Homo sapiens: one gene and its partners. The protein of the gene in region 1 interacts with the protein of each later gene in a pairwise test. Each region holds a gene or a part of one and is shown in the gene's direction. Other genes may lie near its edges.

The links. The genes of interacting proteins can lie anywhere in the genome.
Region 2: the proteins of TCHP (region 1) and TEX11 interact in a two-hybrid assay, tested with the Homo sapiens proteins (one large-scale study listed by BioGRID and IntAct).
Region 3: the proteins of TCHP (region 1) and ZMAT5 interact in binary tests that used the Homo sapiens proteins (3 or more experiments, as listed by UniProt).
Region 4: the proteins of TCHP (region 1) and PRDM16 interact in a two-hybrid assay, tested with the Homo sapiens proteins (one large-scale study listed by BioGRID).

Annotation. Positions count from the first base shown.
Region 1 is NC_000012.12:109,906,774-109,910,453, forward strand, and holds part of TCHP (trichoplein keratin filament-binding protein), read left to right. Parts: intron 1-752; coding exon 753-926; intron 927-1,812; coding exon 1,813-1,925; intron 1,926-2,097; coding exon 2,098-2,164; intron 2,165-3,680. UniProt on the Homo sapiens protein: Tumor suppressor which has the ability to inhibit cell growth and be pro-apoptotic during cell stress. Inhibits cell growth in bladder and prostate cancer cells by a down-regulation of HSPB1 by inhibiting its phosphorylation.
Region 2 is NC_000023.11:70,603,652-70,608,211, reverse strand, and holds part of TEX11 (testis-expressed protein 11), read left to right. Parts: intron 1-1,182; coding exon 1,183-1,253; intron 1,254-2,694; coding exon 2,695-2,811; intron 2,812-4,560. UniProt on the Homo sapiens protein: Regulator of crossing-over during meiosis. Involved in initiation and/or maintenance of chromosome synapsis and formation of crossovers.
Region 3 is NC_000022.11:29,734,948-29,739,507, reverse strand, and holds part of ZMAT5 (zinc finger matrin-type protein 5), read left to right. Parts: intron 1-1,066; coding exon 1,067-1,178; intron 1,179-4,560.
Region 4 is NC_000001.11:3,436,203-3,440,181, forward strand, and holds the end of PRDM16 (histone-lysine N-methyltransferase PRDM16), read left to right. Parts: 3' UTR 1-2,419; downstream 2,420-3,979. UniProt on the Homo sapiens protein: Binds DNA and functions as a transcriptional regulator. Displays histone methyltransferase activity and monomethylates 'Lys-9' of histone H3 (H3K9me1) in vitro.

The DNA of each region.
Region 1 (3,680 bases):
GACACATGTGAAAACTGAATGTTTGCTCTTACATATACCAGAATCCTATGTGATAATTCCCAGGGCAGAATAAGGCCAGGTGACCAGGGCTGGGAGGTGGCACATACAGCACGCGTCTTCTTTTTTTCTTTTGGAGGCAGGGTCTTGCTCTGTCACCCAGGCTGGTGTGCAGTGGCGCGACTCACAGCTCACTGCAGCCTCGACTGGCTGGGCTCAAGCAGTCCTCCTAACTCAGCCTCCCGAGTAGCTAGGACCACAGGTACGCACCACTGCGCCCAGCTAATTTTTTAATTTTTGTAGAGATGGGGTCTTGCTCTGTTGCTCAGGCTGGTCTGGCCTCCTGGCCTTAAACGATTCTCCCACCTCGGCCTCCCAAAGTGCTGGGATTACAGGCGTGGGCCACAGGGTCCAGCTAGGACGTGTGTCTTTAAGGGCATTTTTGTCTCTCTTTTGATGAAATCTGCATCGTAAACTCGCAGCCCTGGCTTACTGTAACCCCTTTGGGGTTAAGCTTCCACACCTCTGTGCACTGGTCGCTTTGCTGCCTGGTTCATTTTAGAAAGTGTTTTGTTGAGTGGGGAGGAAACCCAACATTATTGAGTCCCTCCCTGACTTGGCGTCTGAGGGCGTTGTCATTTGGGATTCAGGCAGGAACTGCCTGGGCCCTGTGGCCTGCAGAACGGCGGCAGGAAGCTAGGTTTTTGTTGGCTTACGGTACAGATATTGACCTGTGTTCATTTGGTCCCTTGTAGCAAGAAGCCACCGCAGAGCAAGAGAACAAACGGTATGAAAATGAATATGAAAGGGCCCGAAGGGAGGCGCTAGAAAGGATGAAAGCTGAAGAGGAGAGGAGGCAGCTGGAGGACAAGCTCCAGGCCGAGGCACTGCTGCAACAGATGGAGGAGCTGAAGCTGAAGGAGGTGGAGGTGGGCACAAGCCCCTCTCAGCCGTGACCTCCTCCACAGCTGCTCGTTAGCATGAGATGGGCACTTGAGAGGCTGCCCTAAGAAGAGGCCATAGCAGGGCTGAGATTCTGCAAAGGGCGGCAGCAGCCGGGTTCTCCCTCTCACATGCATCCCCATCTGCCTTGTGCTTTCCCATCCTCCTCGTTTGCGTGCCTGAATTCCAGAACATTAACGACATGGAGCCAGTAGCTGTTCTCTTAGAGGTGGTTAGCGGCCTGCTGTTGGAGAACCTTCTTAGAATCTGGATTTTCCAGTGCACTGAGTAGACACAATTTAATCGGGTGGTCTAGCACCCAGCTCTCCGTGGGGAGCAGGTTTCGGGTCTCGAGGCATAACTGAGGGTTTTTGGTCCAGGGGCTGTTTTTGGAGAACATGGCACAGTTTCCTTGAAAGAGATCTTTCTATTTAGAAGAGGGAGGCCCATGCTCCTGTGACCTCACTTCCCCTTGCCCAGGCCGTGATTTAGCAACTACATTCTTAGTGCCTACTGCTTATTCTAGGTGCTGAGCACTGGGTTGGGAACTAGAGATAGAGCCTGACCAAGGCCCACAGTCCTGACCTCCTGGTGGGGGCTGTGTCAGGTGGAGGACAGTTGTTAAGTTACAGTAAGAGTGGACCAGTACAGGATCCTGTGGGAGTTTAGAGTTCAGGGCTCAGAAAGGCCCTTGCAGGAAATGGCTCAGAGGGGATTGGATGAGTAAGTGAGTGGTGGGAGGGGATCGTGACCACCTGCATGGCCAGGCCTCTGTTGGTGTAGTGTCTGCGAAAAATGGAGATGGAGAATGAAGGAAGATCTGATTCCCACGATCTCAGATCTCAGTCGAGCTTACTCTCATCATCACCACAGGCGACCAAACTAAAGAAGGAGCAGGAGAATCTGTTGAAGCAGCGGTGGGAGCTAGAGAGGCTGGAGGAAGAGCGAAAGCAGATGGAAGCCTTCCGGCAGAAGGCAGAGCTGGGGTGTGTGTCAGAAGGGCCCCCCACTCTTCCCAGGCGGGTGGGCCTCTTGCTTTTTCAGACTTGCATTCGTGTTGCTGAAACCATAAAGGAGACAGCCTGGTCAGCAGTTATCTAACTTCTATTTAATTCTTTCTGAGATACTGAAGGCAGCCCACATTTGATTCTCCTTCAGGCGTTTCTTGAGACATCAGTATAACGCTCAACTCAGCAGACGCACACAGCAGATCCAAGAGGAGCTGGTAAGTCTGAAGAGACAGCCTGACATCTTTCTTAGCCTCTTTTGTAAAAAAGGCCTTCCATTGCTTAGTATATGAGTGCATTCTCGTAAGAATGAAGACAGTGAGGGGTTGGGGGAAAGGGGAGATGTTGGTCAAAGGATACATCCCTCGGTTGGGAGATCTGGGAGTAGTGTCCATCATGTTGATCACAGCTGATGATACCATATTGTATTCTTGAAATTTGCTAAGAGAGCCAATCTTAAGTGTTGTCACCATGAAAACCAACTGTGAGGTGATGGATATGTTAATTAGCTTGACCGTAAGGATCCTTTCCCAGTGTCTGTGTGTATACATAGATGGATAGATACAGGTATCAAAACATCAAATTATTTTTCAGTAACTGTGTTACTTAAAAAGCAGCACAACACAAAGTGAGATCACCCCCTTGACCAGCACCTGCAATCTCTGTCTATCCCCAGAGGTGCCTGTTTAGTTCACATCTTTCTAGATGTATTTACATACAGAGAGGTGGAGGTTTTTGTTTTTGTATTTAAATCTAATTGAGGTTGCATTCCTCAGCATCTTCAATTAACACTAAATCTCTTAATTTTTAAAAAGATCGGCCAGGTGCGGTGGCTCCCGCCTATAATCCCAGCACTTTGAGAGGCCAAGGCAGGCGGATCACCTGAGGTCAGGAGTTTGAGGCCAGCCTGAATGACATGGTGAAACCCCATCTCTACTAAAAATACAAAAACTAGCCGGACATGGCCGGGCGTGGCGGCTCACACCTGTAATCCCAGCACTTTGGGAGGCTGAGGCGGGCGGATCACCTGTGGTCAGGAGTTTGAGACCAGCCTGGCCAATGTGGTATAACCCTGTCTCTACTAAAAAATACAAAAATTAGCCGGGTGTGGTGGCAGGCGCCTTAATCCCAGCTACTTGGGAGGCAGAGACAGAAGAATCATTTGAACCTGGTAGGTGGAGGTTGCAATAAGCTGAGATCAAGCCGTTGCACTCAAGCCTGGGGGACAAGAGCGAGACTTCTCTCAAAACAAGAACAACAACAACAAAAACTAGCCAGGCATGGTGGTGCACACCTGTAATCCCAGATACTCGGGGGGCTGAGACAGGAGAATTGCTTGAACCCAGGAGGTGGAGGTTGCAGTGAGCCGAGATTGCACCACTGCACTCAAGCCTGGGCAACAGAGTGAGACTCTGTCTCAAAAAAACAAAAAAAGGTCATTATGCTTAGATTGAACCTGTTCTTTTCAGATAGCTCCTTTGTATTCCTAAGTACTTTGATGAGCTCCCTTGAAGTGAGGGAGACAGACCTAAGCTGCCCTTCCCATCCCTGCCCACTGCGGTCAGGGCAGGACATGGGGCACAGTGGCATGGTTGGTCCTGGTGTGCAGCTGTTTTTTATGGGGTCTTGCTCTGTTGTCCAGGCTGGATTGCAATGGCGCAATCACGGCTCACTGCAGCCTCAACCTGCCAGGCTCAAGCCATCCTCCCACCTCAGCCTCTCGAGTAGCTGGGA
Region 2 (4,560 bases), on another chromosome or scaffold:
ATGTTCAAGATCTTTCTTAATGTGGGTGCCAGACGCATGGATATGTCCACTTTGTGAAAATTCATCAAGCTGTACAATTATGAGTTGTGTAATATACTTTATAATGGCTCTATTTCAATAAAAATGATTTTAAAACTTGCGGAGGCAGTTACTACAGTGATAAGTAAGCATGAGCAATTAAGCAGCAGTGCCACAAAGTGGACTGATTCTACATGAACCTCTCCCTGTGTTATGAGGTTTAATAGGGCTTTAATCCTGGGAGAAAGGGAATGAATACTGCAATCTGACTTCTAAGAAACTGATGCAAATAATGAAAAATAACAAACATTTAAAATATAGACAAGTTTGGTGACTTTAATCTTTTGAAGGTTTGAAAAGGAATGTTTTTACTTTACTGCATTTTAATTTGGATTTTCCAAGGGGAAGATGATGCTGACTGATGCCTGATGAGGGCTTCTACTGCTCTTTGGAAGATATGAATCTCTCCAGTAATTTTTCTCAACTCTTGATTACAGTGTACCTTGTTCTTAGGTGAATTTTAACTTACTTTCACCACTGCGAGTTAGTGAGCTCTATCCATGTTGATCTTCATTTTTAGATAGATTAGTGTCAATTAAGAATTTTTTTTTTTTTTGAGACGGAGTTTTGCTGCCAGACTGGAGTGCAGTGGTGGCATCATAGCTCACTGTAACCTCAAATTCCTGGTGTCAGTCTTCTGGGACTATAGTTGTGTGCCACCACACCTGGCTAGTTTTGTTTTGTTTTGGTTTGTTTTTTAATTTTTTTGTATAGACGGAGTCTCTCTCTGTTGCCCAGGCTGGTCCTGAACTCCTGGCCTCCAGCAATCCTCCTGCCTTGGTCTCCCAAAGTTCTGGGATTATAGGAATGAGCCACCAAGCCTGGCCTCAGCTAAGAATTCTTATTGCATGTCCCCAATTTTAAAAAATTCAGCAGTACCTCCCTTGGTCATTGGTCTAGTGTTGAAGATTGGAATTGACGAGGGTCTCTAAATTTACCTGGAAAATTTTTCTTTAAAACCTAAAGTTAATTGTTTAAACCTTGAGAAACCCCTTACTAGTATGTTAATATCAAAGGTGTAAGTATCAGAAATTGTAATGGTACAGACTAAATGGTAGATTTTCATAATTTCATATTATTATGTTATTTCATGTTAATTTCCAGCTTGGAACTTGGCTGTGCAATGTGACAAAGATCCAGTGATGATGAGAGAGTTTTTTATACTTTCTTATAAGGTAAGTTTCTTTTAATAAGTATCTCATGTATGGACCACAACAAGGCTATAACCACTATGGCTATAGTAAAGGGCTAAATATAGACTAGGATTGTCTCTTGATCTAGGAACTTTTAATATATATGTAAGCAGGAATGACCTAAGAAGAATTTGTTCCTTTTAGGGTATAACATAAGAATGTGGGGCATATCTTTCTATACCAAAATATCAGAAACATTCATCAGGGAGCCTAAAGTTCTACCATTTAAGACTTATTTCTTTGCCTTTGAAGGGATCTCAGCCTCCCAAAGTCCTATATTAAAATGTAAATATCTTTAGGAGGGGAATACTCTAAGTAGTTGTTAATTACCAACACATTATGAAGAGTTATGGGAATAAGTCTACAAGAACATAGAATAAGTATCTGGGGATAGCAGGGGCTGAAAAAAGAGATAAGAAGCTTAGGCCTCCTTTATAACTTTCCTATAGCAGGTCCTGAGTGTAGCGATTTGTGAGTTTGTTATTTAATTATAAGCATTTTTAAATAGTCGTTGGCCTCCAAGGTAGAGGTTAAATGCCAGAAAGAGGACCAAGTATTGACAGGAAGATAAAAGGAGAAGGACTAAAGAATATCCTTCATACACATTCAGGAATACACAGTATGATATGTTGAGATCAATTAAATGTTAAGAGTTTTAGAGCTAGAAAGAACTATAAAGACTATCTAGCACAACTCCTTCATCTCACATAAGAGTAATCAGAGACCTAAAGAGATTGGTTGTCTTAAAATGCTATTAATTTAATAACAATGATGATTATGATCACTGAATGTTTGGGGAGATTAAGAAATAGTCTTTGCAAGTTTAGGCATAACTGCCATTTTAATTAAGTGAAATAAATTGGTTTTAGTTTTGGCATTTGTGATGGGACTTGTAGGATTGGCGTGTAAGAATCCAAATGGCCTAGAGTTTTATTGTAGTAGCTGGGAGTTTTTCCTAAAACTATACAATGTTAATGATGAGGTCATGACTAATGCCTGTCAAGATTTGACAATGCCTCTTTCAACCATGACAATATATGAACTAATTTTGGCTCTATTCAATACAAAGGTGGAAATCTTATTTGCCAGGGGAAAAATCACTTACAAATTACAACATAAACCAAGAAGTAAATCACTAGATAGAAATACAAGGGCGAATGATACTACTTGTCACTGGAAAAGATAGGAATACTGTGAAGAAATGAAGCTTTTTATCTCTAGGAAGGTACTAAAAACAATGGAAAGTAATATAAAATTAAAAGCATAAATCAGTATTATAGTTTATATCATTTCTATGGTGACATGTGCTTTTCCAGCTGAATTTTCTCATTCAAACAGGAAGTTGCTGATTTTCATTCTGATTGTTTGTGTTCACCTGGCAGAATTCTCACTATTCATTGATGTTCTGGTTACTTCTTATCAGATGTCCCAGTTTTGTCCTTCTGATCAAGTAATTCTGATTGCACGGAAAACATGTTTACTTATGGCAGTTGCAGTTGATCTAGAGCAAGGGAGAAAAGCTTCAACAGCTTTTGAACAGGTAATGTGCAACCTTCAAAGAAAAGACAAGAGTTCAGTGTGCTATTTGATATGTTTGCCTTCCCTGATGCAGTTCTTTTTGATTCTCTTTAGAGAATCCTTTTCTCCACTCCAGCATCGTCTTGATTTCAAAAGTTTGTAATGGCTAATTCCTTCCTAAGCAAAGGTTACTTTTGGTGTGGCCTCTTCTTTTAAGAAGATTAGATATCTCTTCTTTTAAAATTCCCCTTCCTATGGACCACTCTTTCCAAAAATGTTTTTAAATATCTTTTATCTTCATTGTCTGCCTGTGATTATATACGCGTTTGGACTCCACTTTTGTTTCTTACCACATCTTCTAAGGAAGAACTCATCTGTTTCCATAGCTTTGATAGCCATCTGAAATTATTACTTATCTGGTTTTTCTTCTCTCAATTGCATTTGCTTTCTTTTTCCCACATCCTTAAATATCTCATTAACTTAATTTCTACAAGACAGAATTCCTTACCTTTGCCTGAATTCCCCTATCAGATTCTTAAATGTTACCCCTTTTAGGAGCTATCAATATCACCGTCTCCCATACACCAGATTATTGGTTTGCTTTTAGCTGTTTACCTTTCTTCTTTCAATCTAAGAAAATTGTCTCCAAATCAGACCAATAGCATTTTTGTATGATTTTTAAGATCTAGATCTCTCTGCTTGGTTTCTCGTACCTGGACAAAGAAAACTTCCTAATCTCCCATACTTGTCACCTTCCCTCCTCTCCAAGTAATATAAACCCTTTGCTGTTTATTCTCTTCCTCCTGTTAATCTCTTATTTCATATTGTTCTTTGGATCTGAAACAAACTCTCACCAGAGCTATGCCAACTATTTCGCTTCTTTTCCCTTCCATTGTTGAGTTCAACTCAAAAAACATTTGAGCACCAGACACTTTTCTAGGTACTGGGGATACAGAGATAAAGAAGCCAAAGTCCTTGCCTCTGAGGAGTAAAGGGGGCCCTCTTTTAAGAGTCTTTTTATTTTAAAAGAAGATGAGAAAAGACTCTACCTTCCCCAGAGCAAAATAAACAAACAAAAATTCTACTTAACAGGCAAAGGTAAATGTAATTTAATTCTCAATAGGGACTTTTGCTTTACTAAAAAATAATAATAACATCTTATTTTTATATAGTGCTTTTAAATTTCTAAAAGTTTTTCCTTTTTGGTTGGTAATCCTGAGTTTGTTTAATTTTTTATCTTAGTGAATAGAGATCAAATTGATGTGGGGGAAATTTCACAAACTCTTAAGTACAATCATTATTTTGTTTGTTTCTAACTACCGTTCTTTTTTATTCTGTGTTCTTTCTCATGTACACCTCTGTGTTTTCTCAGAACTCTCTAAACTAGTAACCTTTCTATAATCTTCTTTGCTTTTGAAAGGATGTCTATATACATAATTGAAGATGCACTTCTGCCTTTTATCATCTAAGTGTGGTCCCTATGAATCGGACAGTGGTACTCTGTCTCTCTAAAGAATACTTGTTCATGTCCTTCGCCCACTTTTTGATGGGGTTGTTTGTTTTTTTCTTGTAAATTTGTTGGAGTTCCTTGTAGATTCTGGATATTAGCCCTTTGTCAGATGAGTAGGTTGCGAAAATTTTCTCCCATGTTGTAGGTTGCCTGTTCACTCTGATGGTAGTTTCTTTTGCTGTGCAGAAGCTCTTTAGTTTAATTAGATCCCATTTGTCAATTTTGGCTTTGGTTGCCACTGCTTTTGGTGTTTTAGACATG
Region 3 (4,560 bases), on another chromosome or scaffold:
TGTGTCCTGTCGAATGTGATGTCTCTAAGGATGAAGCAAGATGACACCTGTACAGCCCAGGGCCCGGCCCCAAGTGAGCTCCAGAGACCAGGGCCCGGCCCCGAGTGAGCTCCAGAGACCGAGGCCTGGCCCCGAGTGAGCTCCAGAGACTGGGGCCTGGCTCTGAGTGAGTGCTAGTCAAGTGTATGATTACTTTCCTCTGGCCCAAGACTCCATCCCAGATGACTTGGCGACTCTGACCCCATCAAACGCTCACACCCAGCTTGTATAAATTCCATTCGTTGATTGGTTTTAATTCGTTGAGCAACAGGTTTTGTTGGACAGCTTATGAGAATAAAAACCAGGGAAGCTGAGGCTCATTACCCTGCCCAGGGTCAAAGACCCGGCAGGTGACAGAGCTGAGATGTGACCCCATTCGACTGCCCTCACTGCCTCCCTGCACCTCAGATTCAGACCCCTCCTTAGGGCCAGGCTCTCTCTCTCTTTTTTTTTTTTTGAGATGGAGTTTCACTCTTGCCGCCCAGGTTGGAGTGCAGTGGTGCGATCTTAGCTCACTGCAGCCTCCACCTCCTAGGTTCAAGCGATTCTCCTGCCTCAGTCTCCCAAGTAGCTGGGATTACAGGCACCCACCACCACACATGGCTAATTTTTTTTATTTTTATTTTTAGTAGAGGCAGGGTTTCTCCATGTTGGCCAGGCTGGTTTCAAACTCCTGGACTCAGGTGATCCGCCCGCCTTGGCATCCCAAAGTGCTGGGATTACAGACGTGAGCCACCACGCCTGGCCAGGGCCAGGTTCTCTACAAGCACTGTCCTGTTTCCAGCTCCCCAAGAGCTTGGAGGCAGCCGGGGTTGTCTCTATTTGATGGGAAAACAGAGCGAGGCCGAGTGCTGGGCCCTCGTGCACAGATGGCCTGGAGAAGCAGTCCAGGTGCATCCTCCTGGAAGGTTGCTGCAACTTCCCAGGCTTGCTCAGGGCCTACCAGTTGCTTCTGCTTTGTGAGAGGGTAGGGTTCTGGCAGGCAGGAGTGTACCCCTCACTTGCCTTTGTCTCCCTGTCCCCACAGAGGAGAGGCGAGCCAGGGAGTGGCTACTAGATGCTCCTGAGCTCCCCGAGGGCCATCTGGAGGACTGGCTGGAGAAGAGAGCCAAGCGGCTGAGCTCAGCCCCAAGTAGCAGGTACAGGTCCCCAGGGTTCCCTCCCGCTGTGCCCCCTGGGGGCAAAACCCCAGCCCGCCTTCCCCTTCCTGAGGCTCAGGAATCTCCATGAACTGCCCAGGCCCAGGGGCCGAATAAAGTTGCCTACACATAGCTCCCCGAGGAGCCCTTGGGGCCCCAGGCCCTGGCCAGAGGCTGAGGGGTGTTTGAAAGAGCCTCTCCCAAAGCTGGGCCCCTGTTGGAGTCTGTGCTGGCTGGAGGGGAGGCAGGCGGCAGAGCTGATTTGGCTGCAAGTCACAAGTCCGTTGCCAGAGGGAGGGGCCTGGGCTGTGGTCACCATGCACTGCTGCCCACTGTTGCCTCTAGGGCCTTGCAGAAGGGAAAACAGGGAGGGTGCGACTTGCCCGAGGGCACACAGACGGGAAAATGTAGAGCCGGGATTGCACAGGCGTGATGACGAGGTCCTGGTCCCACTGCCTTTCTAAGGAAGGGGGTCTGGAGATGGCCCCAGCCCTCGGGACGCTCACAAGTAGAAGGGGAGCTGCTGGATCGGGGTCCTTGGGGTGTGTGCTTCGTGATGTCCCTGGTCCTCCTCTTTGAGGGAAGGGCCTCGGGTGATATTCACATCAGAACGGGGCACAGGGCAGGCAGGGGCAGACAAAGGCTGGCGGCCAAAACCGAAGCCTGAGCTCCTGGGCTCTTCCTCCAGCAGTTGAAGGAGGGAGGGGAGGAAAAGGGGATAAAGCTGCGCCCAGGAGCCGCATGCGACTTTGAACACGTTTTCCCATCCCGACTACCTTGCTTTCCCCATCTTGCAACGGGCTTCAGACCTGACTACCTCTGTGGTGTGGCTTCACAAAATGGTGGCCTGGCCTGGGCCAAGGGGACCTGGCCAGATAGTCTGGGGGAAGAGGCCTTCCCTTGGAGCTCTGCCAGGAGGTGAAGGCCAAACTTCTTGCCTTCTCTGTGCTCCAGTGAAAGAGACTATGAGGGTGTTTTTTTTCTTTCTTTCTTTCTTTTTTTGTGATGGAGTCTTGCTGTATTGCCCAGGCTGGAGTGCAGTGGTGTGATCTCAGCTCACTGCAACCTCTGCCTCTGGGTTCAAGCGATTCTTCTGCCTCAGCTTCCCAAGTAGCTGGGATTACAGGCACCCACCATCATACCTGGCTGATTTTTGTATTTTTGTAGAGATGGGGTTTTACCATGTTGGCCAGCCTGGTCTTGAACTCCCGACTTCAGGTGATCCGCCTGCCTCGGCCTCCCAAAGTGCAACGTGTTGGGATTACAGGCATGAGCCACCACACTCGGCTTTTTTTTTTTTTTTTGAGACGGATTCTTGCTCTACCGCCCAGGCTGGAGTACAGTGGTGCAATTGTCTCATTGCAAACTCCACCTCTTGGGGTTCACGCCATTCTCCTGCCTCAGCCTCCTGAGTAGCTGGGACTACAGGCACCCGCCACCACGCCCGGCTAATTTTTTTGTGTGTTTTTAGTGGAGACGGGGTTTCACCATGTTACCCAGGATGGTCTCAATCTCCTGCCCTCCTGATCCACCCGCCTCAGCCTCCCAAAGTGCTGGGATTACAGGTGTCAGCCACCGCGCCCAGCCTTTTTTTTTTTTTTTTTTTTTTTGAGATGGAGTCTCGCTCTGTCACCCAGGCTGAAGTGCAGTGGCACGATCTCGGCTCACTGCAACCTCCGCCTCCTGGGTTCAAACATTTCTCATGCTGCAGCCTCCCAAGTAGCTGGGATTACAGGCATGCACCACCATGCCCGGCTAATTTTTGTATTTTTAGTAGAGACAGAGTTTCGCTGTGCTGGCCAGGCTGGTCTCGAACTCCTGACCTCAGGTGATTCACCTGCCTCAGCCTCCCAGAGTGCTGGGATTACAGGCATGAGCCACCGCACCCAGCCAGTAAAGGTGTTTTAAAACTAACTTTGTCTTTTACCTTTATTTTAAATCCGTGTTCAGTTTTTGTCTCCCCACCTTAAAAGTATATGTGGTACAGACATGACTCAAACGTTGGAGTGTGACATTCTCTCCTCCTGGTCCTGTCTGAAGGGTCCCGTCTAAAGGGGTTCTATCCTGTCTTTGTGCATGTGAGCACCTCCTTTGGGACTGGTTGCTGTCCAGGGATCCACGTCCTACACCCCAGACTCCTTCAGCCCGTGTGCAAAAGGCTTGAGCTGGTTGGAGGCTGCCCAGAAAGCTCTGGCCCCTGCACCGCTACTTGGACAGGATCTCCTATGAGTCCCATCCTCACTCTGCCACCTGCTAACCGAGTTGCACCAGCCACTCGCCTCCCTGCTCTGGGTCCATGGTGTCCTCCGCTGGGAGCGAGTCACAGAGGCCCGGCTGTCTCTTGGGGCTGTGACAAGGTTTCATGGAGTCCCTGTGGCTGAACTGGAGTGAGCACCAATGGGTGGGGTAGAGATGGGGTGCCCCAGAGTCCTTGCCTGGGTTCCAGACAGATGCATCCCTGTGCTGAAACAAGGCGCTATGAATTTGAGACTTGGGGGACTAGGGTACCAGATGGGGAAACTGAGGCTGAATGACTGGCTCCTAGTCACAGGTTGAAGTGGTGACCATATGAGAATTGAGTTTGGTGCTTACAGTGTTCCCAGTGTTTGGGGGCATTCAGGGAGATTGGCACCCCCATTTTGCATCTGAGGAATCTTAACCTCTCCAGGAGGTGGGGCCATCCTGATCACACGTGCCCTGCTGCCCTTAGCCCTCACTTGAGAGAGAGCTAGGTCCCTGCTCTGTGTCTAGACCCCAGGCTGCCTCTGACACCAAGTTCAGGGCTGGCCCAAGGCTCTGTGTGGCTGTGGGTAGTGGCAGTGGCAGCAGCAGGCTGCCCTGATGGCAGTGACTGTTTTGGGAATGATTGTTCTGCAACTGGAGCCCACCTTGGCTGTAGGGGGTCTGAGCCCTGTGCTCTGGGCCATTGTCCCTCTGGCCACCCAGCCTGGCCCCTTCCAGGGGATCTGCCACCTGCCTTCCTCCTGCCTCCTGAGGGCTTGGGGCCAAAATGAATTGTTCTCTAGGCAGAGCAGGCCTGTCCAGCCTTGAGAAAAAGGGGCTGTGGGAAGGGAGGTGACCGTTTATTCCTGCTTTTGCCATTGCTGCCTTGGGCGTCCATAACTGTCTCCGGGCAGGCTGGTCTCCTGAAGCCTAGCAGCCTTTCCCTCCGTCCTGGGCTTTGAGCCCCTCCCCTGCATCCACACCCCCTACCCTGCTTAATGGGAGGGGGTGGATTCCAGCCCCAGCCCCCGCAAGGCTACCTCACTTTCTTCCTGGCTCCCTCTCCAGCCTGGAGGCAGTGCTGCAGCAACAATGTTCTTCCTCCACCCTGGCTCTCCTGGGCACCCCAGCGGCCCCTCCCTGGTCTCCCACCTTCCCT
Region 4 (3,979 bases), on another chromosome or scaffold:
TTTTTTTTTGCAATATGACCCCGTCTCTCTGAAGTGGGACATTCGGACGGATGGAGCCCTCAGCGTGTCTTTTCAGCAGGAGCAGAACCGATGAGAGCCGCCCTTACCGTTGGTCTCCGGATCCCCCAGTCCCATCCCGCCGTTTTCGGCTGTCTTCCTAACCGTCCTGTCTTCTCTTGGCGCTCTTTCCTTCCACCTTTCCCAAGAGTCCTGGTTGCACGTTTTAAGTCATATATTTTCGTCCCCCTGAAAATGATGGCAAGCCCAGTTTCTCCTGAGCATTCAGACCCCCAGGCCCCAGCACTTGGCGTTTTCAGGAGGCCCTGTTCTTAGAGCCCCTGACAAAGGCAGCACTTATTTCCTGGGCTGGTGCGCCCCAAAACACGGCCCCGACACTTAGTGTGGCCCCAGGCCCCAGCGAGCCTCGCCCTCCCAGTTTTGCTCTGCCCAGCAGTGTTGGTGCCCAGAGATGACAAGGGCCAGGGAGCCTGGCCCGGGTGTGAGAATTCAGAGATTCTGGCCTCCAGCTGTCACCACACCGTAACGGGGCCATGTAACTGTGCAGCATGGACAGGGATGCGACGGGGCAGCTGGCTGTGTCCATGGCCAGGTGGCCAGGGTCAGGGCTGCAAGCCAGGGGTCCAGGGCCCTTCCGTTCAGCCCAAATGCTGCCCCAATGCTAACTCCTTGGATTGTCAACCCCCATCCCCCAAATGGAAATTCCGAAGGAGGCCTCCTCGCACCTGCCCTCCGCTGCTCCTCAGACCCCAGCCCCCAGCGAGCCGACGTCCCCACCCGTTCCTGCTCTCATCCCCAGGTTGGGCACGTGGGGTTCCTCCTCTGTGGGCCTGGCAGACCCTTCATGAGTGGGACCCAAGATATCACTGACTTCAACCCAGAGGATCGAGCCCCTGCACCCTGCCTGGGGCCCTGGGGTGTGGAGCAGTGGCTGGGGTGGGCGTGGTGTGGCCTGAGAGACTGCCCAGCTGGAGAGGCCTTCCTTTACAAGGCCACGCGTGCAGCTGTCCCATCCAGACCCCGACTGGCCAAGACCTCCACGTCCCCAGAGTCCAGCCCTGGAAATTCCAAGGGCCCTGGCGTCCTCTGCCTTCCCCGCTTCCCCATGAGCGTCTGCAAAACACTTGCCTGAATACATATCACGTATTTTAGACTCGAAGCCTCAAAGCACTGGATTGTGGTCCCCTGCCCCCTCTGTCCCGTCCCCCTGCCCAAGTGACTGAAACCTACTGAGCTATATTCACTGTGCTGTCCTAGGGGGAGGGAGAGCAGAGCTCGCCCCTGCACTGCAGCCTTGTGGGGGAGGGCAAGGCTCTCCTCCCAGCCAGGGACGCCAGGACATAGCTGCTCCTGGTCAGTGGAGGTCAGCCGGGTATCAAAAGCCATGAAACTGTGTCTCTGTAGCAATGAGTGATACTGTGACAAAACCATCCTTGCATTCTTCCTAGAAGAGTTCCTCTGCTCCTTCCATTCCATTTTTGTGTTTGTTTTGTTCTTTTCTGTCACTGATCCGTATTACCACTTTTGGAAAAAAATAAATAAATAAATAAATAAAAGGCAGCTTGAGTTTCCAAACGTGTGATTCACTTGTGAACAAAAGTCATTCTAACAATTGCCTTCAGCGTCACGTGCATTGCCACTGCGCTTTCGGCACGAGGGATGCTGAGCCCTGGTGTCAGAGTCGTAATTTAAAGCGTGTGTGTATATGGACTTTGTCCCTTAAGGTCGATATAAAGAATCCTCGCAGAATCACAGACCTGTGCCGCCCGCCACCTTCTGCCATTGTTACATTACAGATTTGGTTTAGTTTTGTTTTGTTTTGTTTTTTCTTTTAGAACTGTATAGTATTGAAAAAGAAATCAAATGTAAATGTCTGGTTTTCATATAATGTTTAAAAAGACCATTGAGAAGGAGGCTGGCGCTCGCCCCATGTCCCCCTTGATTGTAAATTGCTTCTGTTCTGTTTATAAGTAAACTGTGCATGACTCCTGCTTAGCGGTCATTATCGTGTCTGTTGGTGAAATTTTTATTAAAAGGAAAATTCTGTAGATGCACTTATTGAATATGTGATTAGGATCTACGTCTGAGACTAGGAGTCCTGAACTGCTGACGCGAAAGAGGCGCAGTTCCCAATTAATACGGAAATCGCTGTGGGAGAAGAATGAAATAAGACGTGAAGTGTAGGAAATCATGAAAAGAACAATTTTGCAAATTGCATTCTGATGCTTGTGATGAACACAAATGTACTTGTGTAGAGACATTTCCTTAAGAGAAAGCCTAGGAGAAGCCGATTTGGAGGTTAATGCTGTAGAATAGGACTGTATACCAAATGTAATCTTTCCAATGCTCCAATGAATTTATACATGAGATTGATATGCAATAAATCTGTGTGCTTTTCTAAGCCTCGGTGCCCGCGAGCTTCATTGAGGGAGAGGCCCCAGGCCTGTGGAAGGGAGAGGAGGAGCAAGCCAGGGCTCGGCCGAGGTCCAGGCTCCCTGGCTTTGACTGAGGAGTCCCGGGGCCAGGCCCTGATGCCCTTGGAGCTTTGTTCCCTCCACCCTCCGGGGCAGACTCCTGGCTATTCCCATTTTCCAGAAAAGAATAAGCTCAGGAAGGCATCAACTCCCTGGATGGCCCCAGAGCGAGCACAGTGACCTCCAGGTGTGTCCCTCTGCCAAGCATGACAGCCTCCAGATGCAGCAGCCTCCAGGCATGTCCCCCAACTGTGCCTGCCTCCAGGTACACAGGACCCAGGGCCCACCCCACAGGCCTTGCCCCAAGGCTTCCTGGGGATGCAGCATTCCCTGTTGGAGGTGCTGGGGGAACCCGTCTTCCATGCCAGCAGTCCCCACGCTTTTTAGCACCAGGGACTGGTTTCGTGGCAGACAGTTTTTCCAAAGACCAGGGGATGGATGGTTTGGGGCTGATTCAAATGCATTACATATATCGTCCACTTTATTTCCATTATTATTACATTAGAGTATATAATGAAATAATTCTACAACTCACCATAGTGTACAATCCGTGGGAGTCCTGAGCTTGTTTTCCTGCAACTAGGCCTTCCCATCTAAGGGTGATGGGAGACAGTGACAGATCATCAGGCATTAGATGCTCACAAGGAGCGTGCAGCCTCGATCCCTCGCACTCGCAGTTCACAATAGGGTTCCCGCCCCCATGAGAATCTCACGCCGCCACTGATCTGATGGGAGGTGGAGTGCAGACGGTGATGCAGACGATGGGGCGTGGCTGTAAACACAGAGGAAGCTGGGTTCCGCTGCGCCCCCCATGCTGTGTGGCCCGGTTCCTAACAGGCCAAGAACTGGTCCTGGCCCATGGCCTGGGGTCTGGGGGCCTCTGTTCTAGGCCAGTCCTCAACCCACCCCTTCCTAAGGGTGGCCCTCCCCATGTCAGCCTCCCTGAAGTCTGTGTCCACCAGCACCTCACATGGCCTGATGCTGCCCTGACAAGGGACAGCCACAGGGGTGGGATAGGGGGTGAGCTAGAGGCCCCGGGGCTGGAGCAGACCCAGTCCCCTCAGGGGCTTCTCTTGTCTACCCCCAGACTGCCCCTGGGATTCCTTCCTGGGGCCCTCCTGCCTCTGGGAGAGGCTCCATTCCCCTACCCTGATTCTGCTCTGACCCAGAAGCCTAGGGGGCGTAAACCTCAAAGGGGAATGTCCAGCCAGACCGAGCCCAGCCTCCCCAACCAGGACTGCCCCAAACCGTCTCACCCACGTAGGCCCCCACTGGCTCCCTGCTGACACAGAGTTTAACTGATGTCACCCAGGTGACCTGGCCTCCCACCCCCACCCCTACCCAGGGCCTCTGAATGTCTCCTGGGCTCCCTCCTGTCCACCCCTCCCAGTGGGCCGGGCCTCTGGAGCTGTGCCCCTCCACCTCTCCCCTCCCTTACCCCCGAGTGCCTGGAACACAGGCCTGGCTGGGGTTCCAGGGAGGTGGGC